2 linked regions of the Homo sapiens genome follow. The protein of the gene in region 1 purifies or fractionates together with the protein of each later gene. This does not show direct contact. Each region holds a gene or a part of one and is shown on either strand. Other genes may lie near its edges.

The links. Proteins that work in one complex are often made in the same cells at the same time.
Region 2: the proteins of HIKESHI (region 1) and PPT1 purify together in Homo sapiens (co-immunoprecipitation; one large-scale study listed by IntAct). This does not show direct contact.

The regions. Positions count from the first base shown.
Region 1 is NC_000011.10:86,342,275-86,347,502, forward strand, and holds the end of HIKESHI (protein Hikeshi), read left to right. Parts: intron 1-2,328; coding exon 2,329-2,447; exon of another isoform or gene 2,448-2,819; coding exon of another isoform or gene 2,820-2,820; exon of another isoform or gene 2,821-3,309; coding exon 3,310-3,364; 3' UTR 3,365-3,669; downstream 3,670-5,228. UniProt on the Homo sapiens protein: Acts as a specific nuclear import carrier for HSP70 proteins following heat-shock stress: acts by mediating the nucleoporin-dependent translocation of ATP-bound HSP70 proteins into the nucleus.
Region 2 is NC_000001.11:40,090,753-40,095,315, reverse strand, and holds part of PPT1 (palmitoyl-protein thioesterase 1 isoform 1 precursor), read left to right. Parts: intron 1-2,808; coding exon 2,809-2,918; intron 2,919-3,143; coding exon 3,144-3,271; intron 3,272-3,916; coding exon 3,917-3,987; intron 3,988-4,563. UniProt on the Homo sapiens protein: Has thioesterase activity against fatty acid thioesters with 14 -18 carbons, including palmitoyl-CoA, S-palmitoyl-N-acetylcysteamine, and palmitoylated proteins. In contrast to PPT2, PPT1 can hydrolyze palmitoylated proteins and palmitoylcysteine.

The sequences.
Region 1 (5,228 bases):
TAATCCTTTGTAAATACATTGCATTTTTCTCCTTCTAGCATGGTGCTTGTCTTTTAACATTGCTTATAGTGACTTTTACATACAGATATACTATATTTGTATATAGATAAATGTATTGTTTCTTTTATGATTTGTGGATTTGTGGGTTTTTTAATGTTTGAGAAATCCTTCTCTGTCCTGATATGTAAAGATATAAAGATGTTCGTGTGTGTGTGTGTGTGTGTGTGTGTGTGTGTGTGTGTGTGTGTAGACTGGGGGTCTCGCTATGTTGCCCAGGCTGGTCTCAAACTCCTGGCCTCAAGCAGAGCCTAAGATGTTGTCTTTCAGTTCTTAAAGCCTTAAGGTTTACTTTTTGAATATGTTTGTGTGCAGTATGGTAAGGGAATTAAATTCATTTTTCCCCTTATGGAAAACTAGTCCTAGCCCCATGAATTGAGTAATTTGTCCCATTTTTTTTTTTTTACCATGAGTAATAGCATCTTTGTCATATATGCTTAGGTTTATTTCTGGGCTGTCTCTTTTATTCCAATTAGTTTATTTGCCTGTCTCTTTGCCAGTGGGGCAAGTTCCTCCTCACAGTCATCAAAATATGTATAGGTATTCTTCATAATAATTGTGTAGGTATTCTTCATAATAATTATATCAGCTTGTTGAGTTTCATTAAATAGTATTAGCTTGTCAAGTTTCATGAAGAACCTTGTTGGAATTTTGTTGGTAATAACATTGGATATATGGGTTTAATTTGGGGAGAATTGGCCACCTTTACCACATTGTCTTTCCATATGTGACATGTTATGTCTTTCCATTGAACATGGTATATCTTTCCATTGAAAATGGTATATATAGGTCCTTTTGTTTTCTTTTCTGTCTCTTAGTAGTCTTTATAATATTTTCCACAAAAATCTTACTAGTTTGTCTTAGCATTTTTTCTAGGTATTGGAGAAAATGCTTTGTTTATATTCTGAATGGAATCCTTTTAAAGATTTCAGTTACACTTAAAAATTATTGTCACTGGTGTGGAGGACTGCTGTTGATTTTTTTTTTTTTTCCTAATATTGATCTTTTAGTTGTGACTTTAGTCTGGGTACAGTGGCACATGCCTGTAACTCTAGCACTTTGGGAGGCTGAGGTGAGAGGATTGCTTGAGCCTAGAATTTTGAGACCAGCCTGGGTAACATAGTGAGACCCTGTCTTTATAAAAAGATAAAAAATTACCCAGGCATGGTGGTGCATGCTTATAATCTCAGCTACTTGGGAGGCTGAGGCAGGAGGATCACTTGAGCCTGGGAGATCAAGGCTACAGTGAGCCATGATTGTGCCACTGCATTCCAGCCTGGGTGAAAGAGTGGGACCCTGTCTCAAAAACAAACGAAGAAACTGTTAGTGACTTTACTGAACTTTTGATATTAATCAGGTGCCTTCGCAGCAGAGTCTCTTGGATTATACTGCCTTCATATTATTCAACAACTGAATAAAAAAACCTAATAAGACCAATTCTCTTGTGTAGAGAAGAGAAGGCATGGCTGATTTTGTATATTTGAGAAAGTGATGCTGGAAAGGTTATTTTTGAGTGAGTAGAAGGTAGTATTATCTTCAGAAGTTCAGTTACTTTTAGGGTTAGTACTTAAGCCCATTTGATTCTCAGGAAATGTGAGTCCATTTACTTCTAGCTTCTACCAAGGAGACTTGGAGTATGTTAGTGAATTTGATCATTTTAGAGTCAAGGAAGGGAAACAGATTAGGAAACAGAGGAAATGGAATAGTGCTGCCTTTATCTTCTTTCCAGCAATGGAAATAACCAGTTGCTCCTTTATAATATGTAAACTCTTATCTTTCTGGCAGGTAAAAGACTTCTTAGAGATGGTTACTATTTTATATGAGAAAATAGGTTGATTTGAGGAGAGTGATAATTGAGGAGGGACATAGTGGATGCAGACATGGAGATGAAAGAAAATATTTTGAAGAAAAATTTTTTTCTTTTTTTTTCCCCAAAGTGAGTAGCATATTTCACAGTGTCATTGTATGTATGATTACTCTTAACATTCTTTTTTATTCATTTATTTAATTTTATTTTTTTGACACAGGGCCTCACTATGTTGCACAGGCTGGTCTTGAATGCCTGGCCTCAAGTGATTCTCCTGCCTCAGCCTCCCAAAGTTTTGGGATTACAGGCATGAGCCACCGCACCCAGCCAGCTTTCAGCATTAGACTCTCTTAGAACTGACACTCCCTATAAACAAGTTAATGTGAGAACACTTTTAATTTAAAAATATTGAGTTCTAAATGAAGTATTCAGTATAATCCATTAATCTATTATTAACTTTTCAGTTCACACAAAAGATGTTGGACAATTTCTACAATTTTGCTTCATCATTTGCTGTCTCTCAGGCCCAGATGACACCAAGCCCATCTGAAATGTTCATTCCGGCAAATGTGGTTCTGAAATGGTATGAGGCATTTTCTGTCTCCAATATTAAGGCTTTTTATAACTGAATATCTATTTTGTCTATGAATATATTCCTTTTTTGACATTTAAACATATTCTTTTATTGTGAACATCAGCACTGCATGCCATTAAAGTATGTACTATAGAGATCTGATGAGAAACAGTTCTTACCCTAAATATTTTGTTATATTGTCGCCATTATGAATTTATAAAGACAGGAAAATATAGTTGCCTATGTTTTAGGGACCACTATTAAAGCTTATAAATATTTGTGTATTTTCATTTAGAAGTACCATCTATGAGAGTAGTTTATACTGCACTGTGTACATGAATGGCTAATGAATCTATTTTCCAACTTTCCCGTGTTTTATAGATATTTCTTTTCACTTTGAGTATCCTAGAGATGGGAGGATGCCTAGGAAGAGTTTGTTGAGAAGTGGTACCATGGTGTAGCATGGAGAGCATTGGAATGCACTAGGTTTGAATTTTGGCATAATGTAGCTATGTGACCCTGAGCAAATTTCTCTCATCTGCTCATCTGTGGAATGAGGAAATAGGAGTTGAATTTGATTTTTTTCCTTAGGTCCCTTCTAGGTCTTAAATTTGCAGAAGATAAACAATTACTAAAATTTCTTATGATTTGTGCTCTCTGATAAAAGCTAATCAAAACTGCCCCGATATTTAAATTCCTATGCTTGCTGTCTTTTTATAAGAATAATTACATTTCCAGATTATCTTTTTAGATTTTTTATAGCTTTTTAGAAATGACATGTAAAATTGTTTTGGATAAGTCATTTGGCAGTTAATGAAAGATCCTATTTTAATTTTCTTGTGAATGTAAATATATGTGTTTTCTTTTCTAGGTATGAAAACTTTCAAAGACGACTAGCACAGAACCCTCTCTTTTGGAAAACATAATTTGAATAAAATAATTTTTAATGGATTCTGAAATTTGTCATGTTTTGAAGATAACTGACTCCATCTAAAAGTATGAGGTCAAAGGATCACGAAACCTAAGTTTAAAAACTGCTTAGAGACTGAAGCTTAATTAAAAATCTTTATTAAAAATTAAAAACATTGAAAAATGAAAATATGTTCATCATTAAAGACTTTTTTCCCCTTAAGCTTAAAATACCATTCAAAGGCAAGACATTTTGTTTTGGCTATGATTCATTTTTTTTACTTAAAAATAAAACCTATACCAAACAGTAGTGTGCCAAGTACCATTGCATGTGTAATCATTCATTTATTGAAATGAAACAATGGTTTGCTGGAGTAGTTAACTTTTCAATTACCTATTTCAAAATTTGGGAGACTTGAAAAACATATGAAGTATACATTTTTAAATATGGAGAAATTATTTTCAGAGATTATTTCTTAAGATTGTCAGTTTTTCCAATTAATACAGGTTGGCTGTCACTTTTTATATCTGCAGATTCATATAAGTTTAATAAAATTGCCATATTGGTGAGCTTTTATTTAATACTGGTAGGCATTTATGTGTAGAATATAGGATTCTTCTTGTTAATGGATGGTTAGTAGTTCATTTTTTGTTGATTATAACAATACCCAAAACTGGGTAATTTATTGACTTAAATGTTTTTTTTTTTTTTAAGACGAAGTTTTGCTTTGTTGTCCCGGCTTTAGTGCAGTGGCGTGATCACAGCTTATTCCAGCCATGACCTCTTGGGCTCAAGTGCTCATCCTGCCCCAAGCTTTCCATGTAGCTGGGACTGCAGACGTGCACCCCCATACCCAGCTAATTTTTTTGATGTTTTTGCAGAGACACAGTCTTACTGTGTTGCCCAGACTAGGCTTGAACTCCTGGGCTCAAGCAATCCTACTTCAGCCTCCCAAAGTGCTGGGTTGGTAATTGATAAAGAAAAGGATTTTTTTTTTTTTCCTACAATGATGGAGACTGAGAATTCCAAGGCCAAGGGGCTGCAGCTGGTGAGAGGCTTCTTGCTGGTGGGGAGACTCTGAAGAGTCCTTAGGCAGTGCAGCGTATCACACAGTGAGGGGGCTGAGCATGCTTTTGTGCCAGCTGAGGTCACTCTTCCTCTTCTTATAAAGCCACCAGTTCCCCTCCTGTGATAACTTAACCTATGGGCAGAGCCCTCATGATCCAATCACCTCTTAAAGGCCGCACCTCTCAGTACTGCCACATTGGGATTAAAATTTCAACGTAATTTTGGAAGGGACAAATATTCAAACCATAGCAATTGTTGAATCATGAGACTTGGCAATGGCTACACAACAGTCTTTAATACTCTGCACAGAAAACATCAGCTAATTGCAATACAATTTCCAGAAGCAAAATGATTATTCATGTACTACAACTTGTATCTAGGACCTAGATTGCCAAACCCAAGCTGAAAAAACATCCTGAAGTTCAGTTGTGCCTCTTCTACAGTCAGGTAGCCTCTTCCCAGTGATTTTTGTAGTGATACAACAGGAAATACTAAGTAAACACAAACTATTCCTTGGTCTGCTAAGAAATCAAAAGAATATATGATTATTCATGATAATCTTGGGTTGTAGTGAATTTAAACTAGTTTCTTGGGCTTCCAGAGCAGATGATGGGAGTGAAATTTTGGGCCACATTTTCTAGTATTATTCTTACTTCTAGAATAGTATCTTGCACAGTATGCATAAGGAGTCATCACTTCTGGGAGCTTTCCTGAGTAGCCTATACCTGCCTTATTTTGGAAGTTTCTGGTTATTCTCGGAGACACGTGATATGCTGGAAAGAAAAGGGCTTTAAATATCTGAACATCTAACA
Region 2 (4,563 bases), on another chromosome or scaffold:
ATTCCATTTGGAGGTGGAGGAAATGAGGAGAAACTAGCAAAGGAGGCTGTAACCAAATAGCCGGTGAAGTGGAGGGGTCAGGAAAGCGCAGTGTCCTTGAAGCCAAGTGAAGAAAATGTTTCAGGAAGAAGGGCATGATCAACTGCATCAAATGTTGATAGGTCATGATCAACTGTATCAAATGTTAATGGGTCAAGGAAGATAAAGGCTGACAACTGATTATTGGATTTAGCAATATAAAGATGATTAATCTTGACAAAAGCAGTTTTGGGAGAGTCGTGATAGTGAGATCTTTATTGGGATGGGTTACAGAAAAATATTCAGAGTAATTAGAGTCAGCAAATACAAACACTTGCAAGGTTCTCCAACAGGCCCTGGGGCTACTACAGTGGGGTCAAAAGAGGACACAGGGTAGGAGCTTTGTGTTTTCCCAGAGCTCACAGTCAGTTACAGGGGAGGCAGAGGCAGTTAAGTAACCTACAATTACAGCTCAGTGTGGAGAACGTTGTTTTCAGAGAAATAAAAGGAATAGACAATTCTCTAGGCAGTAGCCTTTTCTTGTTCTAAAATTGGTGCTTAAGCTTTCTCGCAGGTTGAAAATGGAATAAGTAAGTTCAAAATGGGAAATGATCTCAGTCCACTTCTACTCAGTAGCCAGTTTGCTTCCTGTTCCTAGTTCTAGTTCCCTGAAATAGAAGAAACAAGTCTGGGGCTAGGACAAGATGAAGAGGCTCCTGAAGTGCAAATTTAAGGAGGCACTCACTCTCAAATTCAGGGTCAACACTTACATAAACCTGAGAATGAGTGCCTCCTTAAATTTTGTGCCCTAGAGCGGGGGTCCCAAACTCCCTGGGTCTGTGACCTGTTAGGAACTAGCCACACAGCAGGAGGTGAGTGAGCCTGCAGCCTTACCACCATGAGCTCTACCTCCTGTCAGATCAGCAGTGGCATTAGATTCTCAAAGAGCTCAAATGCTGTTGTGAACTGCGCATGTGAGGGATCTGGATTGGGTGCTCCTTATGAGAATCTAGCAAATGCCTGATGATCTGAGGTGGAACAGTTTTGAAAAATTGTCTTCCACAAACCTGGTCCCTGGTGCCAAAAAGGTTGAAGACCGCTGTCCTAGATGCTTAATTTGCCTCACCCTAGTCCTGGCCCTGAAGAGAAAACTTTGCATCTGTTCACCCCAAATATCCCCTGTGATAGGGGAAGGGAATGTGTACCTCTGCTTATTTTTCATTTGTAAATTTGGTGTCTTAATTATCCTATATGGGCTTTTTGGTTTTTTTGAGACAGGGTCTCGTTATGTTGCCCAAACTGGTCTCGAACTCTTGGCCTCAAGCAATCCTCCTGCCTCGTCTTACCAAAGCGCTGGGATGATAGGTATGAGCCCATGCTTGGCCTATATGGATTTTTTTTTTTTTTTTTTTTTGAGATGGAGCCTTGTTCTGTTGCCCAGGCTGGAGTGCAGTGGCATGATCTTGGCTCACTGAAACCTCCACCTTTCAGTTTCAAGCGATTCTCCTGCCTCAGCCCCCCAAGTAGCGGGACTACAGACATGTGCCACCACACCCGGCTAATTTTTGTATATTTAGTAGAGATGGGGTTTCACCATGTTGCCCAGGCTGGTCTCGAGCTCCTGACCTTGTGATCCACCCACCTCGGCCTCCCAAACTGCTGGGATTACAGACGTGAGCCATGACACCCAGCTCCTGTATGGACTTTTGAAGCTTGTTATTACTTGATAAACAGGAGCTAAGCAAAAAATGTTCTTTCTTCTGTTTTTTAAAATTGAGGTAAAAATTCATGTAAAGTTAACCATTTAAAATGGTACGATTCAGTGGCATTTAGTGTATTTGCAATGTTGTGCAACTAACACTTCTTTTTCAACACCCCAGAAAAACACACATAGCCATTAAGCAATCACTCCCTATTGCCCCCTCCTACTACTTCTTGATAATCTCCAGCTTAGTTTTCTGTATCTCAGTGGATTTGCCTGTTCTTTATTTATCCTATGAAAGGAATCATGCATTATGTGGCTTTTTGAGTCTGGCTTCTTTCACTTAGTATAATGTTTCTGAGGTTCATTCAAGTTGTAACATGTGTCAGCACTTTGTTCCTTTTTTATAACTCAGTAATATTCCATTGTGTGAATATACCACATTTTATTCATTCATTCATTGATGGACTGCTGGATTGTTTCTCCCTTTTGACTATTACAAACACTGCTGCTGTTAACATCTATATGCAAGTTTCTGCATGGACGTGTGTTTTTATTTCTTTGGGGTGTATAACTAGGAGTTGAATTGCTGAGTCATTTAGTAATCGTATGTTTAACTTTTTGAGAAACCACCAAACTGTTTTTCACAGTGGCTGCTTATTACATTCCCACCAGCAATGTCCAAGGGGTCCCATTTTTCTACATCGTTGACAATACTTGTTATTTTCTATTAAAAAATTATTATTAAAGACATCCTAGTCTGTGTGAAATGGTATCTCATCGTGGTTTTGGTTTGCATTTCACATGCCAGTGGTTAGCCATTTGTATATCTTCTTTGGAAAAATATCTGTTTAATTTCTTTTCCCATTTTTAAATTAGGTTATCTTTTTGTTGAGTTGTAAGTGAGTTATAGATTCCTTGTATATTCTGGATATTAAGCCCTTATCAGATAACTGTTTTGCAAATATTTTCTTCCATTCTATACATTGTTTTCACATCCTTGATAATGCTGTTTGAGGCCTCAGAGTTTTTAAACAATAAACAATATTTGGACTCATGAGTTTCCATCATTGTGTTTTGTTGGCTAGGAGACAGCTGTTGCAATCCCTTAAGCATGGGTGCTATTAAAAAAATGGTGGAGAAGAAAATACCTGGAATTTACGTCTTATCTTTAGAGATTGGGAAGACCCTGATGGAGGTAAGGCGCTTCACAGCTGTTCCTTTGAAGGGTTGCTGACTGATTTCATAGCATATACTGTTAAAATGCTTTGCCTTGTGTTTTCAGCAGCAGATCATACAGTGATACTTTCACCCTTGAGTGGCTCATGTGAGGATACCAACCTAAATGAGTTTACCTCTTAGAGAAGATGTCAGTGGTTGTTTTCAGTCCCATCCTCTCACTTCTCTCTGGCTTCTTTTTTAGGACGTGGAGAACAGCTTCTTCTTGAATGTCAATTCCCAAGTAACAACAGTGTGTCAGGCACTTGCTAAGGATCCTAAATTGCAGCAAGGCTACAATGCTATGGGATTCTCCCAGGGAGGCCAATTTCTGTACGTTCCTTTTTGTTATATTGTACCACTTATATGGAATTGATTTTTGTTTCTTTTATTCAGATAAATCCACTCCTCCAATTCAAGATTGTCACCTATCTTGGAAGGGAAATTTCCTAAAATGTTCCTGTGTAAGAAGCTTTATGGAACTTAATTTCTTTTCTTTTTTTTTTTTTTTTGAGACAGAATTTCTCTCTTGTTGCCCAGGCTGGAGTGCAGTGGCGCGATCTCAGCTCACTGCAACCTCCACGTCCCAGGTTCAAGTGATTCTCCTGCCTCAGCCTCCCGAGTAGCTGGGACTATAGGTGCTCACCACCACACCTAGCTAATTTTTTGTATTTTTAGTAGAGATGGGGTTTTACCATGTTGTCTAGGCTGGTCTCGAACTCCTGACCTCAGGTAGTCCACCCACCTCAGCCTCCCAAAGTGCTGAGATTACAGGTGTGAGCCACCATGCCTGGCTGGAGCTTAATTTATTTTCTATGAAAGTTGAAAGAAATATTTGCATTTGCCCATATCAGGAAAATCCTGAAACTCTGCGGGTTTGGGGAGTCACAGAGGATGACTAGCTTAATCTGTGATGCTGATTGTGGATGATACATTTCCATCTGACAGTCGGAGCTAAAACTCCCTTTTATTCCGTAGGAGGGCAGTGGCTCAGAGATGCCCTTCACCTCCCATGATCAATCTGATCTCGGTTGGGGGACAACATCAAGGTAACTTTGCCTCTTTGCTTTCTTTTTTCTGTATTCTAACCCACATGACCACCTGATTTAAAAAAAAATCTAGGAACTATATTTGCACAAGACATCAGCCATTCTTGCAAAATCCTGTTTCTCTAGCTTTTAACAAACTAGCCAGCATTGCTGGAGACATAGGAAGAGACTTAGGATTCCAGAGGCCTGGATCACTAGGTTGGCATCTACTTCTCTCCAATTTCATTGACACGATTGCATGGAAGTAAGATGGTTATAGCCACGTGGCAGGTGGTGGTTGAGGAGTTAGGAAAATTGAGTGACCTTTTCTGTTCTCTGATTTGGTGGTATCCTCTTGAATTTAGGCTTAGGCAAAGAATAGTGTGTAAGCTCTTGTGTCTATAAATTTAAACTCTTTGAGAAACAGCAGGTTTTCTATTTTGACGGAATTCCATACTATTGGGGAAGGATGTGTCATTAGAATGGAATTTCATCTCTGTTGTTGATGGGTATAGCTATTAGCTGGTATAATGTGGGAGCAGAATGATTCTCCGTGTAATCAGGAAACCTGGACTCACCCAATTAACTATTACTCCT